Linked DNA regions of Homo sapiens: region 1 is reported to be linked to region 2. The links are microRNA targets in miRTarBase. Many come from high-throughput screens and were not tested one by one. Region 2 holds a microRNA gene; the other region holds the end of a gene's coding sequence.

Region 1 (10,791 bases), not on the chromosome of region 2:
CAGCCTGAGTTTTTTTCTGTGATGGTTGAATTTAGAAGAGTTGGGTTCAAAAGTGAATCCTCCTCTCCCTCTATGTAGCTGGGCCATTCAGAACATAGCACGGTTTGCTTGCTGTTGGGGACCTGTGTGCTGTGGCTGTCCTTGGGCACCACCCCTCAATCGGAGGGTGTTTTGTTTTCTTTAGGGCTGGCTGGGGCATGCCTTGGCAGGCACCCGCCACAGAACACATTTGTTAAGTGAAGGGGAGAGAAAGTCCTGGCTGCTTGGTATAGGGGGCCGAGCTTGAGTGAGGCCTCCTCTGCAGTCTGGAAGGTCTGATTATGGCAGTGCATCTGGGGGTCAGCAGGACCTTAGAGACTGATTTGTATTTATCCAACTCTTAAGAAAGGAATTTATCGTTAAAAATGAAATGGTATGAAATAAATAGCAAAACGTGGGTGCTAGCTAGTGCCGACTGAGTTTGCTGGCCAGCATGCTCTCAGAAGTACTGCCCTGGCCGGGGGTGGTGGCTCACGCCTGTAATCCCAACACTTTGGGAGGCCGAGGCGGGCGGATCACAAGGTTAGGAGATCGAGACCATCCTGGCTGACACGGTGAAACCCCGTCTCTACTAAAAATACAAAAAGTTAGCCAGGCATGGTGGCGGGCGCCTCTAGTCCCAGCTACTCGGGAGGCTGAGGCAGGAGAATGGTGTGAACCCAGGAGGCGGAGCTTGCAGTGAGCCGAGATTGCGCCACTGCACTCCAGCCTGGGTGACAGAGTGAGACTCCGTCTCAAAAAAAAAAAAAAAAAAAAAAAAATACTGCCCTAACATGGCACCAGAGCTGTGCTCCGTGCCACCCTCGGAGCGAAGTGGAGTTGGCTTGTTAGTGCAAGGGACATCACTTGAGCACTTGCGGTGCGCCAGGGTCCATGCCAGGTGCTGGTTGTGTCTACTGAAGTGCGCCCTGGGCCCTCGGGGCTCCCTGGCAGAGCCAGAACCACACAGTAAGGGCTCATGCTCAGCAAGGAGGCGCTGGGGGCCGCATGGGCTCTTGCAGTCCTGTGCACCTGAGGAGAGTGGCTAAATGGGCAGGGCACCAGACCCAAGGGCAGGAGGCGCAGCACGTTGGGAGCAGGCAGGCTGCTCTGCATGGCCGGGTCCCTGGGCTGTGTGGATGAGATGGGAACCATGGAAGCCACTGTGTGGGGGCAGGGGACACTTAGCCTGGAGCTCACTGAGGAATTGGAGGCAGGGAGAAATGAGGTCAGATTTGTGTGAAGGGAGGTGAGTATATTCCAGGGGCTATGTGGCTAGCTGGGCAGAGGACGAGTTCAGAAAGGGTTTCTAGAACCCGATGAGGGTGGTGAGTGCTGTCCTGGTCCCGAGGTGCTGGGTGGACCTGTGCGGTGTTGCTGATGGGGACCAGGTTCCCCCTGGACAGGGCTTAGGAGGTCGGGCCCCTGATGGCAGCAGCCAAGCTTGGCCGTTCCCTCCACCCCTGTGGCCATCCAGGTGTCAGGCTGGTCCTGGGGCATGGGCCTCTCCCGTAGGTGAGGTGGATTCCATTTAGATCTAGTTCTCTTCTCTCCTTCTGTCAGACTGAGGACTTAACACTACTGGTTAAAGGGGTTTTGGAGGGTTTTTTTTTTTTTGGTTTTTAGCTTTTTGTTATTTTCCATGTTTTCTTTCTCATGAATTGACTTGGACAACAGCCTTCTCTATTGTGTCAGGTCATTAGTAAATTAAGCATGTAAGCATTAGTAAATAAGCATTTAGGCTGGGCGCCATGGCTCATGCCTGTAATCCCAGCACCTTGGGAGGCCAGTGGGAGTCCCAAGGAGTTTGAGACCAACCTAGGAAACATAGTGAGACCCTGTCTTTAAAAAAAAAAAAAAAAAAAAAAAAAAAAGGCAAGCATCCACTTACTGTAAGTTGTTTTATAATTTAAGGTGTGCGATTGCTTCCCCAGTGGGTTATTTTAAACGTCTGTAAATGTTTCTTGGCTGCTCCGATTGCAGGGCTGAGCCAGGCCCCTCCTGTGTCTTGGAATGGAGAGCGGGAGTCTGATGTGGTCCAGGAACTGCTCAAATACTCATCTGATAAAGCTTACGGGAGAAAAGGTACTGATTTGGAGACAGGACTTCTGTTTGCCTTTCATTGGTTGGTTTTGTAGGAGGGAAGGGTGTGGAATGGATCCTGGTGCACTGTGAGTGTGGCGGGCGGGCATCGCTCGGCTTTGAGAATGGGAAGAGGAATCTCAACACTGGCTGGAGTCCTCTTTAAACCCTCAGCCGTGGCACGAAGGTGGCTTCTGTCCGTGGCAGGATCCAGAACAGCTGCTTCTGAGGGTTGGGGCAGGGTGAGGAGCCCCACACATGCTGTGTCTTGGGTAGGGAAGGGGCAGAGTGACGAAGCTCTTCCAACCTGGGTAATGTCACTTCTTGCTCAGAGCATGTTTTTATTCAGACTTCGAGACCAAACATGACATCTTTGTTCCTCAGACGAGGGCATGGGTTTAGAAAGAACTGAACTCTTTGGCTGTGGTTTAGGGTTTAGCTAAGAGGGCATCGCTGGGGGTTCCATGCTGACCGACCACACATGGGCGTCGAGCCGTCCTCCTCTTGTCCTTCTCTTCACCACAAGGTGGCACTCAAAATTGTTGACTAATTATGAGTAGACTAGTTGGTAAATGACACTCTTGAAGTGAAGCCACAGGGGACCTGGGAACCTGCACTCGTGCTGACCCCCGTGTCTGCCTGGTAGTTCTGACCTGGGATGGCAAGATGTCGGCGGTCAGTCAGGATGCTATTGAAGACAGCAGACAGGCCCGGACTGAGACCGTGGTTGATGACTGGGACGAAGAGTTTGACCGAGGGAAGGTATGATGTGTGATGCTGACCACAGGCTTGAGGGAGCAGGGCGGCGTGGCTCAGCTCAGAGCCGGGGCAGTTGGAGGTGGCGGCAGTGGCATGAAGCGGCCGAGCATGAGAAGAGCCAGGCTGCCCAGGCCTGTCCGGGCGTGTGGCCATGGACAGGGCATGCATCCTCGCAGCTTCCGCCCCTTTGTCAATAGGGGGACTGCAGGTCGCCGTGCACAGGGGTCATTGTGAAGAGTGGGTCTCCAGAGAGCTCATGAGAGCCCGGCCTGTGTGCAGGACCTGCATGCAGCATGGAGCCCCGTGGGCCAGGAAAGAGCCGTTTTTGGGAACTGTGATGCCTGTGATTCTTGGTCTAGGAAAAGAAAATTAAAAAATTTAAGAGAGAGAAGAGGAGAAACTTCAACGCCTTCCAGAAACTTCAGACTCGACGGAACTTCTGGTCTGTGACTCACCCAGCAAAGGCTGCCAGCCTCAGCTATCGCCGCTGACTGTGCCCCTGTGGAAGGAGGTCGGTTCCGAGGGGGTGGGTGTAAGGGTGAGGTGGGGGTGTGTGTGCCGTGTATGTGTGTAGGGGTGTGGTGGGGTGTGGCGTGTGTGTATGATGTATGTGGGCTGTGTATCTGGCACATGTGTGTTGGGTGGTGTGTGTGGTGTGGGCGCGTCTGTGGTGTGTGTCCTAGTCACTTGGAGAAGGGTGTGTGTGGGATGCGTGTGTATAAGGGGGTGTGTGTGGGATGCGTGTGTATAAGGGGGTGTGTGTAGTGTGTGTTGGGTGTGGGGTGTGTACACCTGGCATCTGTGGCATGTGTTCTGGTCACTTGGAGAAGGGCATGTGTGGGGTGTGTGTGGGATGTGGGTTGTGTGTATATCTGGCATGTGTCCCAGTCACTTGCAGAAGGGTGACTTCTTGCCAGCCGCATCGAGATGCCATGCATTGGGTTCCTAGGTTGGACTCATACCCGAGGGTGGCAGTGGGAAGATTCGGGTCTCGTTTCTCTCTGTCAGGACTACCGTGGTTTGTTCTGCAGCCTCCTGGAGACAAGGCGTCCCTTCCCGGGAGCTGTCGGTCTGGATCTGAGGGAGCTCTCTGTGTGGGCTCTGCTGCGCTGGGAGCCTGTCACGGTAGGAGCTCTCCCGGTACCAGTGTCCACAGACCGCCCAACACAGAGGCTTTGAGGCTTCTCTAGATCGGAACCTCTTTGGTGACATTCCCGACCAGCCCTGCAAGAGAAACGACAGTGTGTGTGTGAGCAGAGGTGGCCGCACACCTGCTGGACATCTTTGCCAGGCTGTGCCTTCTCATGTTTCATAGACAGTGGTCTGTGCTGGCAGAGGCTGCTGCCCCTGGTTGGGGCTATCAGGAGAGTGGGGGATGGTGGCCACATGTCCCCCAGGTGGTCTCCCGGTGCATAGCTGGTGGCTCTGGGCAAGCCATCCCTTGCTTCTCGGGGCTGACGCCACCGTTGTGTCCGAGCCCGCCCTCCCCTGCTTCCTCAGCGGGACCCCTTCATCTGTTGGCCTTACCTGTCCTCAGAAAGGAAGAGGTGACCCCACCCAGCCACCTCTCCCTTTTATGGAACTCGAGAGGGTGGCCCTACTGTGCACCCCTTCCTTGTGAGTAGCTCTCAACTGTCCTGGAGAGCAGAGGCTATTTGGGGTCGGAGGAGCCCTCGATACCTGCGAATACATCTGCTTTCCAGGCTGCTGTTTATTCTGAGACGACTGTGCTGTAGCTTCCCTTGCAGCTGCAATAACCCGCAGGTCTTCACTGAGGTGGAGGCTTTGGGGTAGAATTCTCCATTTATTTTACTACTTAATACAAAACATTTATTTTTGACCAGTCCTGTGGCTTCCATTAGCAATATGTTTCCTTTCCCAAATATGCAAATAGTGGCTTTGTTTGCTCAATTTTGTGAGTGCTTTGGAATTTAAATGATTGTATAACTCAAGAAGATTACTTTTCTATGTTGCTCAAGCTGTGCCTGCCAACTTGTAACTTAATAAATACAGGAAATCCTCAGAGAAGGTGATATTTTCAGGAAAAAGACAAATGCCCTCATAGTAGTGGGAAGTGTGAAGGTGACCGTGAACATCCTTCCTCATCGGGTCTGTCCCCGTCATTTCCTCCCGGAGTCGTCGCAGGTGGAGATGGACAACGTGGTGTTGGACTTAGACCTCCTTCAGTGTGGCTCTGCTGGGCCAGAGGCATCCTGCTGTCCCGGGTGGCTGCCTCGCTGTCTGCACCCCCTCTCCCTGGGGCAGCTTTGCTTCCTGCCCCTGTGCTCGGGGCCTGGGTGGTTACTGGCGTGTAGATGGAATTGCTTTTTTAATATGGGAAGATACATTTATTTTTTTCCATGTGGGTGGGTGTCTCTTTTTGGATTTTCTTCTGTTTTTACGTTTCTCTTCTTAGAAGGGTGGGAGAGAATCAAGCTCCTGTGGCCACCTGTGTCCCAGCAGCAGTGAGTGGAGCTGCTCAGGGTGCCCTCTCCTGCGGACCAGTCTCTGAATGTTCAAAGATGAGGGCCTGGCTTCCGTGCTCTGGCTTTGTAACTTATCTGGAAGGGAAAGCACATGCCTTCACGGGCAGGGTATGTTCCTTTTCTTCTCGGGGTGTTGACTTGCATTCCTGTGTGAACTGTTCCCTCTGCCATGTTTACCGTGTGATGTTCTGTAGTTGAAAATGTTAGTTGTCTGCTGGCACAGAATTTATCTCGTTCCTTTCTCTCCCTTCTCTCCTCCAAATCAGTCTCTTCCCTTCTCCACTAGATAACTGTAAAACCTTTTCCTGGGGTACATACATTCGTTAACTCTTGGGCAGTGGTGAGCACGAGATGACTTTCTGCAGCGTTTATCACTGTTGGGTGGAGTCACGTCCCTTCCCTCCACCGAAGTCATCAACCAGATAGGGAAGGGAAAGATGAGGCCCAGAAAACGAGTTCAAACTCTAGGTCTTGTACACGTATGTAAGTAAATGTCAATAACCCAAGCCTTTGTCATAGCAGTCACTTGGTTGACTTAGGATCTGGGTCTGTTGAATTTTGTGCTTGGGAATGGAGCTGGAGGGAGTGGGGCCTGTGTACAGCAGCTACCTCTCCCAGGTCCTCTCACTTGCCTGCCCCGCGTCCTGGTTGCATGGCCGCACCTGTGTGTGTGCAGAGGTCTGTGTCCCATCCTCTGCACCTCCTTTCCGGGGGCCTGGGGAGCCCCACGTGTTGCCAAGATCTTGGTGCAATAAAATACTCCGGTTTTGTGAGTTCTGTGTCTTTGTTGGTTTCATTTGATTTTTTTTTTTTAAAGTACATCCCAACCACAGTCTCGCTGATTCCACCTGTCCTGGAAGTTGAGGCTGGGCTAGGAGGGGCAGGTAGGTCCCTGCAGGGAGCTCAGTGACCAGGAGGTTATGAGAGCAGCCCTAGTGAATAGGTGACCAAGAGGCTGAATGAACCCCGGGGCGCAGGCGGGTTGCCGTGCAGCGGCTCCTGTTGAGAATGCTGCTCTGCAGCTGTTACCTGATGTGTGTGGCTCCCCGCATCTCCCTTTAGCAACTTGGAAGTAAGCTTTCTCCACCCCACGGTATCCACCAAACACAGGGCATCATGTCTTCGCTTCTCTTTAGGGGTTTGGCTGGACACCCCAAAATGAGGACAGCCAAGTAAGAACAAGCGAGGTGAGGCAGCTCCTGCATCCAAACCAAAGGGGTGGCAGAGAGCAGGGCACACTGCTGACCCAGAGGCCTTCCTGCCAGCCAGGCTGTGTCTGAAGGCATTTGCGTTGTAGCCTGGGCAGCGGTTGAGGGGGTTCTGAGGCTTGGAGAGGTGGTGATCTGACACCAACGCTGGGTGCAGTGGCGACATGGGCGAGGCTGTGGTTTTTACTTTTTTTTTTTTTTTTTTTTCCCGAACAGAGTCTCCCTCTGTCGCCCAGGCTGGAGTGCAGTGGCACGATTCTCCGCTCACTGCAACCTCTGCCTCCCGGGTTCAAGCAATTCTCCTGCCTCAGCCTCCCAAGAAGCTGGGAGTACAGGCACGCATCACCACGCCTGACTAATTTTTGTATTTTTAGTAGAGATGGGGTTCCACCATGTTGGCCAGGCTGGTCTCTTAACTCCTGACCTTGTGATCCGCTTGCCTCAGCCTCCCAAAGTGCTGGGATTCCAGGCGTGAGCCACTGCGCCTGGCTGATCTCCATCTCTTGACCTCGTGATCTGCCCGTCTTGGCCTCCCAAAGTGCTGGGATTCCAAGTGTGAGCCACCGCGCCTGACAGGCTTTTCCATTCTTAACTGCCGTTTCCCAAACACTAGGGCCACTTCTGGGTGTGTATAAAAGTGAACACACTCACGTCGTCTCGCAGGCGGCGGGCAGAGTCCCACCGGCAGGACTGACGGCTCCAGGGCAGGGTGAGTGCTGTTAGGGAGATGCAGGGAGGCCATGAGGAGCCTGTCATGAGCTCTGCCTGAAGCACCGTGGGGTGAGGTGACATTCTGAAAGGGGGCTGGCAGTGGGAGCTGGCCAGCAGGACTCAGCTGGCTAACTGTAAGTCAGGTGCAAAAGCGCAGGGCAGGTTTTGTTTGACAGTTTGGACAAGAAGGGTTACCAAGGTCTGATGTGCTTTTTAGACTCCTGAGGCTGATAGTGGATTCCAGGCTGCCTGATGGCCTGAAAGGCGGCTGGTGGAGTGCAGAGAACAGCAGGTGAGCATGACCAGCCGCCAGGTTGGCTGAGAAGTGGCCAAGGCTAGAGCTAAGAGATTGGCATTAGTAGCATAGGCTAGAAGTGAGGTCACTTGGATATTTAGGAGATGGACTCAAGAGGTGAGATGACAGATAGGGTGGAATGTTCTGGGTGGAGTTTAAGATGATTTCTGCTAGGGTGGTTAGTTGGGTTCGGAGGCCAAGTAGTAGCCAGGGAAGCAAGCGGCTCACCGATGGTTTCAGGAAGGCCTTCAGGTGGTGAGAGATTCAATCTGACTTAGTGGACGTGTTGGCATCTTACCAGTACAGGGAACCCAGGGAGAATCCTAGGCATGGGAAGTAGGCAGTGGGTGAACTCCGAGTCTTCTAGTTAGGAAAAAGCCCAGGTGTCTGGACACTGGGGAATCAGGTGGGCATCTGTTTATCCCTAACATACTGTTAGGGCTCATCATAACTGTAATAGTGACCTTAAGGGCAGTTTAACACTGGACGGTGCTGTGAGAATCCCTGCCTCAAGTCTTGGTAGCTTGGACAACCTCAGCGCAATGAGGATGTGGGTACGCCAAGGACGTGGTGGTAAAGGAGGACTGTGTGTGGACAGGTCACGTGACATGCAGACGGGCAGCTTTCTGTGTCTTGTCAGCTGAGCTGACTCCCTGGAGTCACACTCTTGCCCGGAGGTGGCCCTGCTGCTGCTTCGTGCAGATCCCGCCTTGGCTTGGCCCCCTGCTCCTTCCATATCTGGACTGGGGATGACCCTTGGAGAAGATCATCTGGGTGCCATGGATTCGGCTTTCAGGGCTGTCTGGCTGCCCTTCTTCGTTGGGCTCTGCCTGCCTTTTGGGATTTCTGCCCTTGGTCTTCAGGCAACTCCTTCCTCTCTCTCCCATTCTTTTCAGTGATCCCTGCACACTATTTTGCTCTCTCATTGCATATGTGCCCACTACTCTTGGTAAGTGACTTCCAAGGCTACCTCAAGAATTCCCATCCCACCCCAAAATTAAACAACATGGGGAAACCAAAGCTAAAACCAGCTCCTCTCCCTCTGTTCTCTTCTCCTTCTTACCTCAGGGTTCTCAATGCTCATAGGGCAGCAGGAGCACCTGGGGAGAGGCATTCGATACTGACGGAAGTAGAATCAGAATCTATGGGTGAGGCTTAGGCATCAGCATTTAAAGCCTTCCTGGGGGGGTGAGGGGGGCGGGCGCGGTGGCTCACACCTGTAATCCCAGCACTTTGGGAGGCTGAGGCGGGCGGATCACTTGAGGTCAGAAGTTCGAGACCAGCCTGACCAACATGGTGAAACCCTGTCTCTACTAAAAATACAAAAATTAGCTGGGCTTGGCCTGTGCCTGTAATCCCAACTACTTGGGAGGCTGAGGCAGGAGAACTGCTTGAACCTGGGAGGTGGAGGTTGCAGTGAGCCAAGATCATGCCACTGCACTCCAGCCTGGGCGACAGAGTGAGACTCTGTCTCAAAAACAACGACAACAAAAAAAACCTTCCCGGGGGGATCATAGTGAGCAGCAGAGTTGAGAGTTGCCATCCTGGTCCCTGGTCTCAAACTCAAGTGAGCACCAGAATTGCCAGGGGCTCCTTAAAACACCAGTTGCCGGGCTCCTTCCCCCGCATTCTGATTCAGCAGGTCTGGGATGAGGCCTGAGAATGTGCATGTCCAATAGTCCCCGGGGCTGCTGCTGGGCAGACCCACTGTTCTGATCTGATGCCTCCCAGAGGGGCTGGGTGGTTGGTGTGGGAGAGTGGGAAGGAACTGTAGTATAGGGGCTGTTCCCCATCCTCTGTGGGGACCTCTACTGGAGATGCTGGACGAGGTGCCCCCTCTGTGTATGCTGGCACCCCACCTGTGCCCTTGAGGCCAACTTCTTCCACCCTGGGGACCTTGCTCCATTAATTACCCTGTCTGCTCCCGTGTCTCACTCTTCCCTTAGGAACATGTTCAGGCATCTCCCATCCTAAAAAGCCTGTGTGTCCTTGTGTCCCCTCTCAGCTGCCCTCTCCTTTGGTTGACATTCATTTTGCTCTGTGTTGACTCTCTGTGGTTCTTAGTCTAGCTTCTGCCATCATCACTTCTCAGTGACCTAATTCCCACTCTTGCCACCGACTTCTTCCCAGGATTTGACACTGTTGACCTCCGCACCCTGGAGAGCTCCTCTAAGATGTGAGCCTGTTGCATTTGCTGCATACTCTAGATCAAGCCCAGAATCAACTGATCCAGTCAATACATCCCACTGAACAGCCGACCGATCCACCCTCTGTCAGGATCTCTACTGTAGACACTGAAAGAGGTGCCCCCTCAGTATAGGATCCTGGCCTCAAATAATCTTCTCGCCTTGGCCTCCCAAAGCATTGGGATTACAGGTGTGAGCCACTGTGCCTGGCCTCCAGGACAATCTTTTAAGGCAAGAAACCAGAATCTAATCATTCCCCAACATAAGGTTTCTCACTCCTGTTCAGAGAAAATAGTCTCCTCTATTTTGTGATCCAGATCCCCCCTGCCTCTTCAGCCTTCCACAGCCCCCTAGAGGCCTCTGGGCAGCTGTCCAGCCCGTTGTTCTGGGATCTCAGAAAGCACTCCAGGCATTGAGGAAATTGCCCTGTGAGAGGGGCCTGAGATTAAAAATGTGCTTGTTCTTAGCAGAATCTGTACCAAACTGTTGCTTCAAGTTGCTTTCTCAAGGGGAAACTGCTGTATATTTTTGCTGCTTTAAAGGGATTAAAGTAGGGTCAGGCTGGAGTCAGGTTTGAATCATGACTTCCTATAAAAAGAAGGCCAGGGCCGGGCACGGTGGCTCATGCCTGTAATCCCAGCACTTTGGGAGGCCTAGGCGGGGCGGATCACCTGAGGTCAGGACACAACATGGAGAAACCCCGTCTCTACTAAAAATACAAAATCAGCCGGGCATGGTGGTGCATGCCTGTAATCCCAGCTACTTGGGAGGGTGAGGCAGGAGAATCGCTTGAACCCGGGAGGTGGAGGTTGCGGTGAGCCGAGATCGCACCATTGCATTCCAGCCTGGGCAACAACAGCGAAACTCCAGCTAAAAAAAAAAAAAAAAAAAAAAAGAAGGCCAGATTGGGAATCAAGACCTGTGTTCTAAGGGGTCTGCCATGAGTTAGCATCATGAATTTGCTTTTCTCCTCTAAAATGCAAAGGTTAGATTCAAATTATCATGATTGTCAGCTGTCACTCTCACGATACATGTCTTGCATGCGT
Region 2 (10,791 bases):
TCCTTCAGCCCCTCCCACACCCAGGTTCCCATTAACTCCCCTACTTCATGTGAGATGAGAAACAAGTGCTCCAAGGTTTTCTGCTCAGCTGCATTTCCAGCCCCCACGCTTTTCCCTTATGCAGGCAATACACTACCCAGAAAACAGAATAAAAGAACAACACAGAGGATAAGTTGCAACGGTTAAAATATCTCATAACGTTCAGTGTCCACAAACTCAGATCCACCATCTCTCCATCCCATGCAGTGTGGCCTCTCTGCGATCCTGGCATCCTCATTGTACTTCTGGCCAGCCTCTCCCTCTGCAATTCTGGCCTGATCCTCTGTGGTTCTGATGGGACTTTTGCTCTGAGATCCTGGCCTCTCTCTCTCTGTGATCCTGGCCTGACTCTCTGTGATCCTTATCAGCCTTCATATAACAGGGAGCAAGCTGCTTTGTCTCTCATGAGAGTTCTCATGCCTAACTCTCATGTGACCTCAAAGAGAAAAGAGCTTTGTCTTCTCTGTCCAACATTGCCCCCCACCATCCTATTCCAGCAGGATTGATAATGGAAATATCTACTTCCTCTTTGGGGGAACCCCATTATCACCCACAAGAATGTGGTCCTGAATTATAGTCCAAAAAGGAAAATAAAATTTCATCGGAGCAAAATGTTTGAACTCCAGTACATTTGAGGTTACTTAGTCTTGAATACTGTGAGCAGGACATCAACCGTGCAGCAGGAAAAACTCTGATTCTGTCCTTTTACATGGTCTCCAGCTAGAAGTAAATGGAAAGCAGCCATGCATGCTTCGCCTTTAGCCATGTGGCTCCTGGTACTCAGGCTCCGATAAGCAAATGCATGAACAAAAACATGCAGAGGCTTACTCTCTCCAAGAGCAAATCAAAATTGACCTGAATTCTGATGCATACATTGAGGAGCTAGGTTTACAGTTTGCAAATTCTGTGTGTTTTTAGGGAACTTTATTCTCTGCAAACTTCATTGCAACTTTTGGAATATTTCTTTTTCCTGTGTTAGGGTTCAAGATGATTTTAGTTTTCCTGAGAATAGGCGGCATTTGCTTTGCATTTGTAGAACAGATAGATTCATGGTGCTCAGGGGAAAATCTTCTCTCCTCCCAGTAAAGCTGTGAGCACTCTGGCCTTTGGACATTCTCCAGCCTCTCCTCCTGCTGCTGTCTGCTTTGCTATCCTCACACTTCAGCACCAGGGGCCTCCTTTCCATTGTTGAAGAAGGCCAAGAACCTAAAGTGATTCTCGGCACTAGCGCCTTCACACATGCTATTCCATCTGTCTGGACAACGATCTCTCTCCGTCCTACCATTCATTTTTGAGTCTCCCAAACTCCTCCTATCCTTCAAGCACCTCCAGGTGACCTTCTGAGGACTCCCCTCCAGCATCCCCAAGCAATGTCAGGACCACCTCTGGCCTTTGCAATGTTTACATCTGAGTTGATAAACAGGATCGGGCTTCCTACTTACTAACTATACACACTGGCTCCGATGTAAAACCATTCGCTCCTCTTCTATCCTCCCAAGAGAGAGAAAATTGAACAGCATCCTCCCCCAGAAATTCTTTACATATTTGAAACCAGTTGTTTTCCTTGCACCATTCTTACGTAAGTCTGTGTTTCTTTACAGCACAGGCAACGCTTGTCTTTCCAAACAGATTCCTGAGCTCCAGGGCTGCAGGAGCCACATTCTTCTCCTTTGCCTACCTTCAGTGCCCGGCCAAGTTCGCTTAATTAATATCTTTGAATGAAACAAAGACTTAATCTGGCCCAGATTTAAATTCTGAATTATTTGGTAGATTAAACACACACACACACACACACACACACACACACAAACACAGATATAGAGAGAGATTTGTAAGCTATGAAATGGCAGGTTTTACCTTCTTCTAAGTGAACATATATTAAGTACACGTGAGGATTCTTTTCAGCCACAGAGCATTCTGTTACACTTAATTCACAGATGTAGTCTCCCTCTCAGTCTCCAGCCGAAAGGGACACAGATATTTCAGTAAGTATTTCTGTCATTTCGGCTGCCTGCCTCTCTCCCCAGCAACCCACACACTCCCTCTACTCTACAGTCGAATCTCACCTGCGTTTGACCTGCTCCATGAAGCCCCCTGTTCCATTCAACCACATGTGCCCCCATCCTGGCTTGGACTTAAATTCCATAAACATTTTCTTTAAGGATATCGTCACACTCCACCATGCATTATCATCATCTACATAATTGTCTTATTTTTTTCTTACTCATCAGCTTGTGAAGTTGTACTGTGACACTTGAGACCGTGGGCAATGGATAGCTTAAGAGAGGCATGATCTCTTAGAAGACAACAAACAGATCTGGAGTAGGACCAACTTCACTTCGTCTGAAACAGACTCACGGTATAACCTTAAAAAATGCTGTGAGCCTGCGCAGAGCTCGACTTCTTTACCCATAAATTCAGACTTTTCTGATCTACCTCATGGGACTGTGAAGGTTAAATGCAACGTTGGTTGTCATGTGCAGGGTCACCATGAGCTCAAACACGGCTCTCCTGCTATTCTTGTTAACATTGGCAGGCAGAAGGGGAAGTTCAGGAAGATTGCTTCCTTTTTCTTGTTACTGGATGATAGTCATCTATGACTTGACTTTTGCAAAGATTTCTCTCCTTTGAAGATAAAGAAACTCTGTCCCCACACCACAATTTCCATTTTCAAAAACTGAAATTGTGGCTCAATTAGAATGTGATCATCACTACTTATACTCAAAAACTTATCGCTGCTACTAGTATAAAATAATAATTCCTCAAATGTGAACACCAGGCCATATCACTGTTTGCTGTTTATGGGGAACTTGACTCTACCCATTTAAGTAAGTGGTGCTTGAGACAATCTGCTAAGGACAAGGGGTCCTGTGATTTTTGCCTGGGACTCTCTTGCCATAATTCAGTCGGTAGATCTAGGCCATTGGAAAAGCCACCAATGTTTGTTTGGGGGATGACAAAAGATTGATGAACAACTTGTGATTACAACTTCTGTATCCTAATCAGAAATTCTCTTGTGTTTTTTTTTTTTTTTTTCTTACAATAAATTTTCTAATCTGAACATGCTGAAAATTTGCCTTTATATTTCCTGGATGGAAATAGTGCACAATCCTTATGCCTCTTTGTGTAACCTCTAGACCCTTCTTGTCTTATCCACTATGAACCAAAGAGCTATTTCTGGGACCCTTTACTCATCCTTCTCTGTTCTCTCTGCTTGGAATTCCATTCCAGGTTCAACACAAATATATCTTTGACATGAAGAGATACCTAATCTTTGCCTTGCCCATTTTAAACCAATAGAATTAAAAATAAATTAATAAAATAAGTTATTCTATCATCAGATATATGTATATCTAGTCTCATAAAATTGTATGTGTGTTTTACAATATTTAGTCCCTGTTTTACTAAAAATATTTGTGGACCCAGCTTGCCTTCCTCATGTCACTAAAAATATATATATTGAGTACCCACTATTCCCCTAAAATATTTACCAAGCACCTTCTAAGAGGCCTTTTAGTAGATATCCAGTAAATATTTTTAAATGAATGAATGTTTAGCTACACCATCCAATACGGTAGCCACTAGCCACATTTAACTACTCAAATTTAAATTAACTGAAATCATATACAATAAAAAATTCATCTTGTACCCCCATTTCAAGTGCTCAGTAGTCACAAATGGCTAGCGACTACAGTATCAGAAAGTGCTGTTATGGGACCCTTCATCACAGCAGAAAGCTCTACTGGGCAGTTCTGAATTCAATACATGAATGAATAAATGCCTGAAAGAATGAATGAACAATCCATCAGGAGGCTCCCAAGCCACCCCCTCTGCAAACTCTCTGACTTCAAGGATGGATTAAACTACATAATATTAACATTTCACCTAATTTAGAGATCAGCTTCCACTTAGGGAAGTGTCACAGCTTGGATTATTTAAAAGGAGCTCAGGAAAGCAGTGAGCACATCCTGCAGGCATGGCTGCTGCTGTTCCACAGACCCATCAGCCACATTATGACAGGAGCGCTTTCCAGCTCCAATTTGTCTAATTCTCATCTGTTATATTAACAAAGAATGCCTGGCCAGAACATGTCACTCAGCTCCACAAAGAGCTATTTCCGTCTTCTGTCTTCTTCCAGAACTGCAAAGATTGATTTTAGGAAGATAATCATTTTTGTGTATTTCTGCACACAGGCTGGCTGCAGCTGTTCCCAAATGCAACATCAATACATGTTTTATGAGTCAGTTTTTTGTGGGGTTTTTTTGGTTTTTGTTTTTTTTTTTTTTTTTTTTTTTTTTGGTAACGTGTGAAGCTAATCATGTTGAGTACGACATAAAAAGCATTTGCCTTGAAATCTCAAGCGCTGTGTCCCATCACTCAATCTTGCTGTGAGCACAGATTTCCTTGAAATGTTTCTGGTCGGGACTGAATGTGTTGAATCTCAATTTTGTATTTCAGCTCCATTCTACGATACAGCAGGGTGAGAACGTGAGTAGCCTTCACAGTTGGGCTTCTGTCTTAGCCTGAGCCATTGAGACAAAAAAACCTAAGACTTTATTTGGGATGTGCAAACCCAGGAAAGAGAGGAAGAAGTGAAGTAAAGGCAAAGAAATCTGGGATGCCAGGTGAAGTGATGCATCACCTTGCTGCTCCTTCCCCACAAGCCTTGAAGTTACAACTGGCAGCCCTAGGCTTGTCCAGGAAAATTACAACGAATATCTCTGTCTTGGGGTAGCACATGGGAGAAACACAGGAGGGGGAATAACCCAGCTAGCTCCTTCCTATTTCCTGTTTCCATTGATCCATTTGCCACTTGGACAGTTAACACCCTCAGAATTCCAGGTTGCACTGGACTCCTGAACAGTAGCTCATGACACTTCCAGTAGTGGATGAAGCACTGTGTGCACAGTTGGCCCTGCACAGAGTGCATCATCCACTACTGGAAGTAGACAAGTGTCTCCTTGAAGATGGGCTTGGTGTGCAGGGCTTGTGAGCCAGGCAGGCTGGGGACTTCCAGCCATCTCGTGGACGTCCCATCAGAGGTTGTTGGTAAGCAGGTCTGGGAGGCAGGCTGTGCTTTAGAGGGAAGGAGACAGTCAGATAGTGAAGGGAACCCAAAGGGGCACAGGATTTCTTCATCCAGTACAGCTTCTCTGCTCGCATGCTTACAGGATTCATCTTCCGTGGCAGGAATTGTTATTTTTAAAAGGAAAATTATGTTCCTCTCCAGGCTCTTTAAAGTATGCTATCCTGATAGAAAAGGCCTTACAGGTAAGCAAATCCTAGTCCTCCAATGTTGCATGTATAAAAATTAATATTAAATAATTGGTGTATGATAGACTAGAGATGTTAAATACCTCGCTTACTAGAAGTAAGTGCCCCCTCCAGCCAACCAGGAAAAGGAGCTCAAATGTTCTAATGCTTCTGTTGCCTCTCTGTACAACAGATAAATCATGTTTATGCAGTGATTGGCGAAGGAAATGAGCATGCAGCAGTGACGCCTGATGCTGAAAGGTGTCACTGGGGTTGCTCCTAAGGAGTCTGAGAGCCTCCCAGGAGCTGGGGTCCACTCAAACCTGGAGGCTCTTCATGCAGCATGCTGAGAGCTCTAGATAATCTCCAGGTAGGTGAGGCCCAGGGAATGTGGGGAGAAGAAATAATGGAGAATCTCACTTTCTAGAACCTGGAGTCAGGTGCCTCAGATAACTCCGAGGGTCAGGAAGATGAAGCTCAGTGTGTGCAGGGAAAAGAGGCCTGCATTCAGATGGGGGAAGTGTAGGAGCATTGTGCATTGTGGGGACGGCACCAGGGGACCCCAAAAACTATAAGCTTCAGTAGTTTGAGGACAATTTAATGAAGGGCCAATGGTATCCATCATGTTAAAGAGGTAAGAGGAGCACTAAGGTTGTTTAACAGAACATGGATGTGATCACATTTGTTTTGTCATTCTAGTTGCTGTGTAGAAAATGGAACTGGAGAGGATTTTCTAGAAGGAAAGAAACAAGTTTACAGGGAGTTGCTATGGACCAAGTGCGGAGTAATAAGGGTCTTCATATTTGAGAAGCTCGTCTTACTCATCTGTAAAATCATATTAATATGTGCCTCAGAGTGAAATTAAAAAATTAATTATTCAATGTCTTTATAGTTCTCCATCCACAGTAGTTTTGTTGACCAGACTTAAGTTGGCGCCCATGATGTGCTCCTCCTGGAGTCATGCTGCTGTAGAACTCACACACTTGACTGTGGGTGGGACGTTCGACTTGCTTCTAACCAATGGAATACAGCGAAAGGAACAGATTTCACTTCCTTCACAATGTTGTATAAGATTGTAATGACTATCACACCGAAAAACTCTCTTTCCTCTTGGTTTTGAGAAAACAAGCTGTCATGTTGTGCACTGCCCTATGGACAGTTATGTGGCAAAAAATTGAGGACAACTGGCAAGAAACTGAGGCCCTCAGTTCAGCAGCCTGTAAGGATTTCAATGCTACTAGTAACCATCTAAGCCTATAAGTGTATCCTTCCCCAGTTGAGCCTCAGATGAGTACTCAGTTCTTACTGACACCTAGTTTGCAACCTTAAAAAGGGCCCAACTAACGCATGCCCAGACTCCTAATCCACAGAAACTCTGAGATAATAAATGTGTGTGGCTTCCAGCTTCCAGGTTTGTGGTAATACTGTCATGTAGCAGTAGATAGCAGTTTCCCCACAAACTTAGTTCCCTCACTTTGCACTACCTACCCTGTCACAGCACTGAAATGCTAAGTGTGAGCAATACTACTAAAACCATTCATTTCCTGCCTCTCTCTTTAAGTATACTGATATGGTTTGGCTGTATCCCCACCCAAATCTCATCTTGAATTGTAGCTCCCAAAATTCCCATGTGTCCTGGGAAGAACCCAGTGGGAGGTAATCAAATCCTGGGGGCAGGTCTTTTCTGTGCTGTTCTCAGGATAATGAATAAGCCTTATGAGATCTGATGTTCTTATAAAGCAAAGTTCCCCCCGTACAAGTTCTCTCTTTCCTGCCACCATGTAAGATGTGACTTGCTCCTCCTTCCCTCCACCATGATTGTGATGATTCCCTCCAGCCGTGCGGAACTGTGAATCCATTAAACCTCTTTTCTTTATAATTCACCCAGTCTTGGGTATGTCTTTATCAGCAGCATAAAAATGGACTAACACACCTACCTATAAAAGATGTTTAAGCTTCCAAAGAATTTTAAAAGGTCGGGGAATTTTAGGGGAAGGGGGTAAAAAACACTAAACTTCATTTATAAACAGCACAGTAGGCACTGGTCTACCCCTTAGTTATACCCAGTGACAAGCATCAGTATCCACTGCCTAGGCTGTGAGTAATTACTGAAGTACATCTGCTCTCTGTGTCTAAGTTTCACCTCATTTTTACTAGTGACCTTTGCCTCTAGCATTTTTGCTTTGGCAAGTTCTCAGCCTCACTAATGTCCCAGTTCTTTTCTCAGGGCTCACACACAAACCACTTCCATTGCTCAGTTATATTTTTACTGCTATCTTGCAAGCACACAAAAATTGTTCAAGGAAGCTGGACTTCCTTGTGTATTCTCATCCAAACGCCTTCTGCTTGACTACTGTGTGTGTGTGGTGGGGGTAGGAGGGACATTACTGTCCTTCTTTTACCCAGAAGATAGGGTCCTGTCTGAATGACTTGCTTCCAGCACTGGATTTAATTTTTTTCCCTTATATCTCACTTTCAAATATCTCCTGAACTATAAAGGCTGGAAATAAATGTTGTCTTTTTCTGGCAACATCGCCCACCTGGGAATAAGAAACCATTTCATGCTCACTAGACAAAGTTTGTGCCTATGTTTTGTATATTCAAGATGGGGTGATATTTTCTGGGTTGCTGATTGTTTTCATTTTATACAACACAACCATTTAATTAGCTATAGTTTATCATGTCTACTTGGGAACGGAATAAAAATCAAAATTTCAAGTGAAGACTACAGCTGCCACCCTAGGAAAGATAAAGTAAATCATAGTTACAATTAATCAAGGGTCTCAGAAAGTGCTGGGTATTTAGCAGGTCATATTGTATTTGACTCTTACTGAACTCTACAAGATGGGTTCTGCAATAATCCCATTTTACAAATAAAGAGGATATTTAGGCTTTTGTGAACCTCCACTGGTCAAGGCAGAGCTGCTTCAAGTTGGCTTCAAATATCAAGCTCTTGCTCTGCAGAAAGAGGTGACTTGGACTCTCAAAGAGACACTGAGCCCCATACAAACTGCATTCTCAATACATTCTAGAGTTGTTTCTGTTCTTTCTTCCAATCCAAATGTAGCACTTTTTCCTCATGTAGTTTAACTATCTAATCACACAAAAATGTTATCAAAATTGAAGGCTGTGTTTTTGCTTCAAGATATTTTAAAATCGTAGTGAAAATTGGTTTTTTGTAAATCTTTCTACGTTTATATGCAGGACTACACAAATGAAGATGATAACCCATTTTCAGAATTAGTATGAGCAACTCCTCCCACATGCCTCTACTGCCTGCTCTTTTCTTTATTCTTAGCCTTTCTTTGAGAAATTTAGATCAATTTGAGCTCATAAAACATAAAAATCAGTAATAAAAATGTTTACTATCTATAAATGTCTATATTGGAATTAGTTCACTAAATTTTAATGAAACGGTACAACATTCGATTTTACAGAATATTTCAAATTTTTCATTAATGTCTTGTCTGACAAGATCCCTCCTGCCATTTTCAATTTGTATTTTAAAGCAAAAACTGTGCATGTCCTCAACTCACTGACTCATTTGATGAGAGCAACAGGGTGTAATTTGCAAGCAAGTGGAGACCTTGATGAATGGGCTAGCTGAATGTCATGAGACCTCTCAACGACTGTAATTTCTGTCCCATGGTTCCTAGGAGTCATATAGATTGCAGAGGGTAGGTCAATCCATGTCACTGTGACAGACAGGAGTGCCAATTGCAAATGCTTTTGAGTGCAAAAGAACAATGATGCATTCCTATTTTCTTGTGAAGGAGATCATGGGTGAGTGTATGTTGTGGCATGGAAACTGGGTCCACCAAACAATTCAACCCTGCTCCATCTGGGAAATCCCCTTTGTTAAAGTCAGTGGAATCAAAACATGTTCTGTATAAAAGTTGCTTCAACCCCACTTAGGAACACCACAAAGCAGTAAGTGGCAATGGAACTAGCTACCTTGCTCTGGAATAGAAGATTGCACACATCCTTGAATACCTGTCCCTAGCCAAGGTAGCAGCACGGTTCTCAGGTACCTGTGATGACTCCAGCCTGCATGATGTTGGAGAAGATATATTTATGGGTCAAGATGCCAATGATCACCTAGCTATGACTATACTTATTTCCTCACTGAAGAAATTGCAGCATAGAAAGGACGATTTCCAAGGTTGTACAGCCAGTTAAAGGCACAGTCAGATACAGGAAAAGCAGATCCCTGTTCTTGAGACTTGAATTGAAATACCCCAGATCTGGAAGAAAAGATTAAAGTGAGCTTTCAGCACTAATTCAAAGGTGGCCATATTTTGCCTATTATACATAATGTTGCAGTGAACGTAAGAGTGCAGATATCAAACAAATATTTCTTTAAGATCCTGATTTTATGTCTATTAGCTATATACCCAGAAGTGGGATTTCTGGAATATATGATAATTCTATTTTTATTTTTAAAGAACCTCTATACTGCTTTCCATAATGGCTCAACCATTTTACATTTCCACCAACAGTGAACAAGTTTTCCAATTTCTCCATATCCTTGCCAACTGTCCTAGTCTGTTTTGTGCTCCTATAACAGAATATCTCAGGCTGAGTAATTTATAAAGAACAGAAATTTGTGTCTCACAGTTCTGGAGGCTGGAAAGTCCAAGATCAGGTGCCAGCCTCTTGTGAGGGCCTTCTTTCTGCATCATCTTATGGTGGAAGGGCAAAGAAGTGGTGATAGCAAGAGAAAGAGGGGCCTGAGCTCATCCTTTTATAAGGAACCCACTCTCTGATAATGGCATTCAACATCTCTTAAAGGCCCCATCTCCCAACACCTTCACAATAGGTATCACGTTTTCAACACATGACCTTTGAGGGACACATTTAAACCATAGCACCATCTTTTGTTTTTTTTAGAATAGTCACCCTAACAGGTGTGAGATGATATCTCATGATTTTGATTTGCATTTCTCTGATGATTAGTGATGTCCAACATTGGATAATGAATAATGAAAATGTAATCTATACATACAATGGGATATTATTCAGCTTTGAAAAAGAAGGGAATCTTGTCATATGCAACAACATGGATGAACCTGGAAGACATTATGCCAAGTAAAATAAACCAGTCACAGAAAGGCAAATACCATATAAATTCGACAGATATGAGGCATCCAAAACAGTCAAACTCATAGAAGCCGAGAGTAGCATGGTGGTTGGTAGGGATTTGGGAGGAAATGGGGAGGTGCTGTTCAATGGATGTAAAGTTTCATTTATACGACATGACTAAGTTCTAGAGATCCGCTATTAATATTGCGCCTATAGTTAACAGTACTATATTGTACACTTAAAAATGTGTTAAGAGAGTAAATCTCATGTTAAGTGTTCTCACAAAAACAAAAAGACTCTGGTTATCAAGATAGACATTAGTTTGTGCCAGAACCTTGTAATCCCTCTTCTGGTTGAACAAAAATGGAGACATATATTAATGATTTACTCAGGAGGAGGGCAGGGGGCAGTTGGTAA

Evidence for each region. Region 2 holds the annotated microRNA hsa-miR-3681-5p (UAGUGGAUGAUGCACUCUGUGC, at 4,957-4,978, opposite strand). A microRNA usually pairs through its seed, bases 2 to 8, with sites in the 3' UTR of a target mRNA and lowers its output. Matches are read on the target gene's strand: a 7mer-m8 pairs with bases 2 to 8, a 7mer-A1 pairs with bases 2 to 7 and ends in A, and an 8mer does both.
Region 1: the mRNA of USP36 is a reported target of hsa-miR-3681-5p. Seed matches in the 3' UTR shown: 7mer-A1 at 5,624-5,630.

The regions. Positions count from the first base shown.
Region 1 is chr17:78,790,979-78,801,769 of GRCh38, reverse strand. It overlaps USP36 (ubiquitin specific peptidase 36), which reads left to right. Exons shown (of 21, transcript NM_001385174.1): 18 at 2,002-2,103; 19 at 2,747-2,862; 20 at 3,219-3,370; 21 at 3,891-6,118. The coding sequence ends at 3,350. Among named protein-coding and RNA genes, the nearest start is that of CYTH1, 14 kb to the right of the region's middle. RefSeq lists an enhancer at 10,326-10,495.
Region 2 is chr2:12,193,325-12,204,115 of GRCh38, reverse strand. MIR3681 (microRNA 3681) reads right to left here and starts at 4,986; the gene lies at 4,915-4,986. The region is part of intron 3 of MIR3681HG (MIR3681 host gene); the gene reads right to left.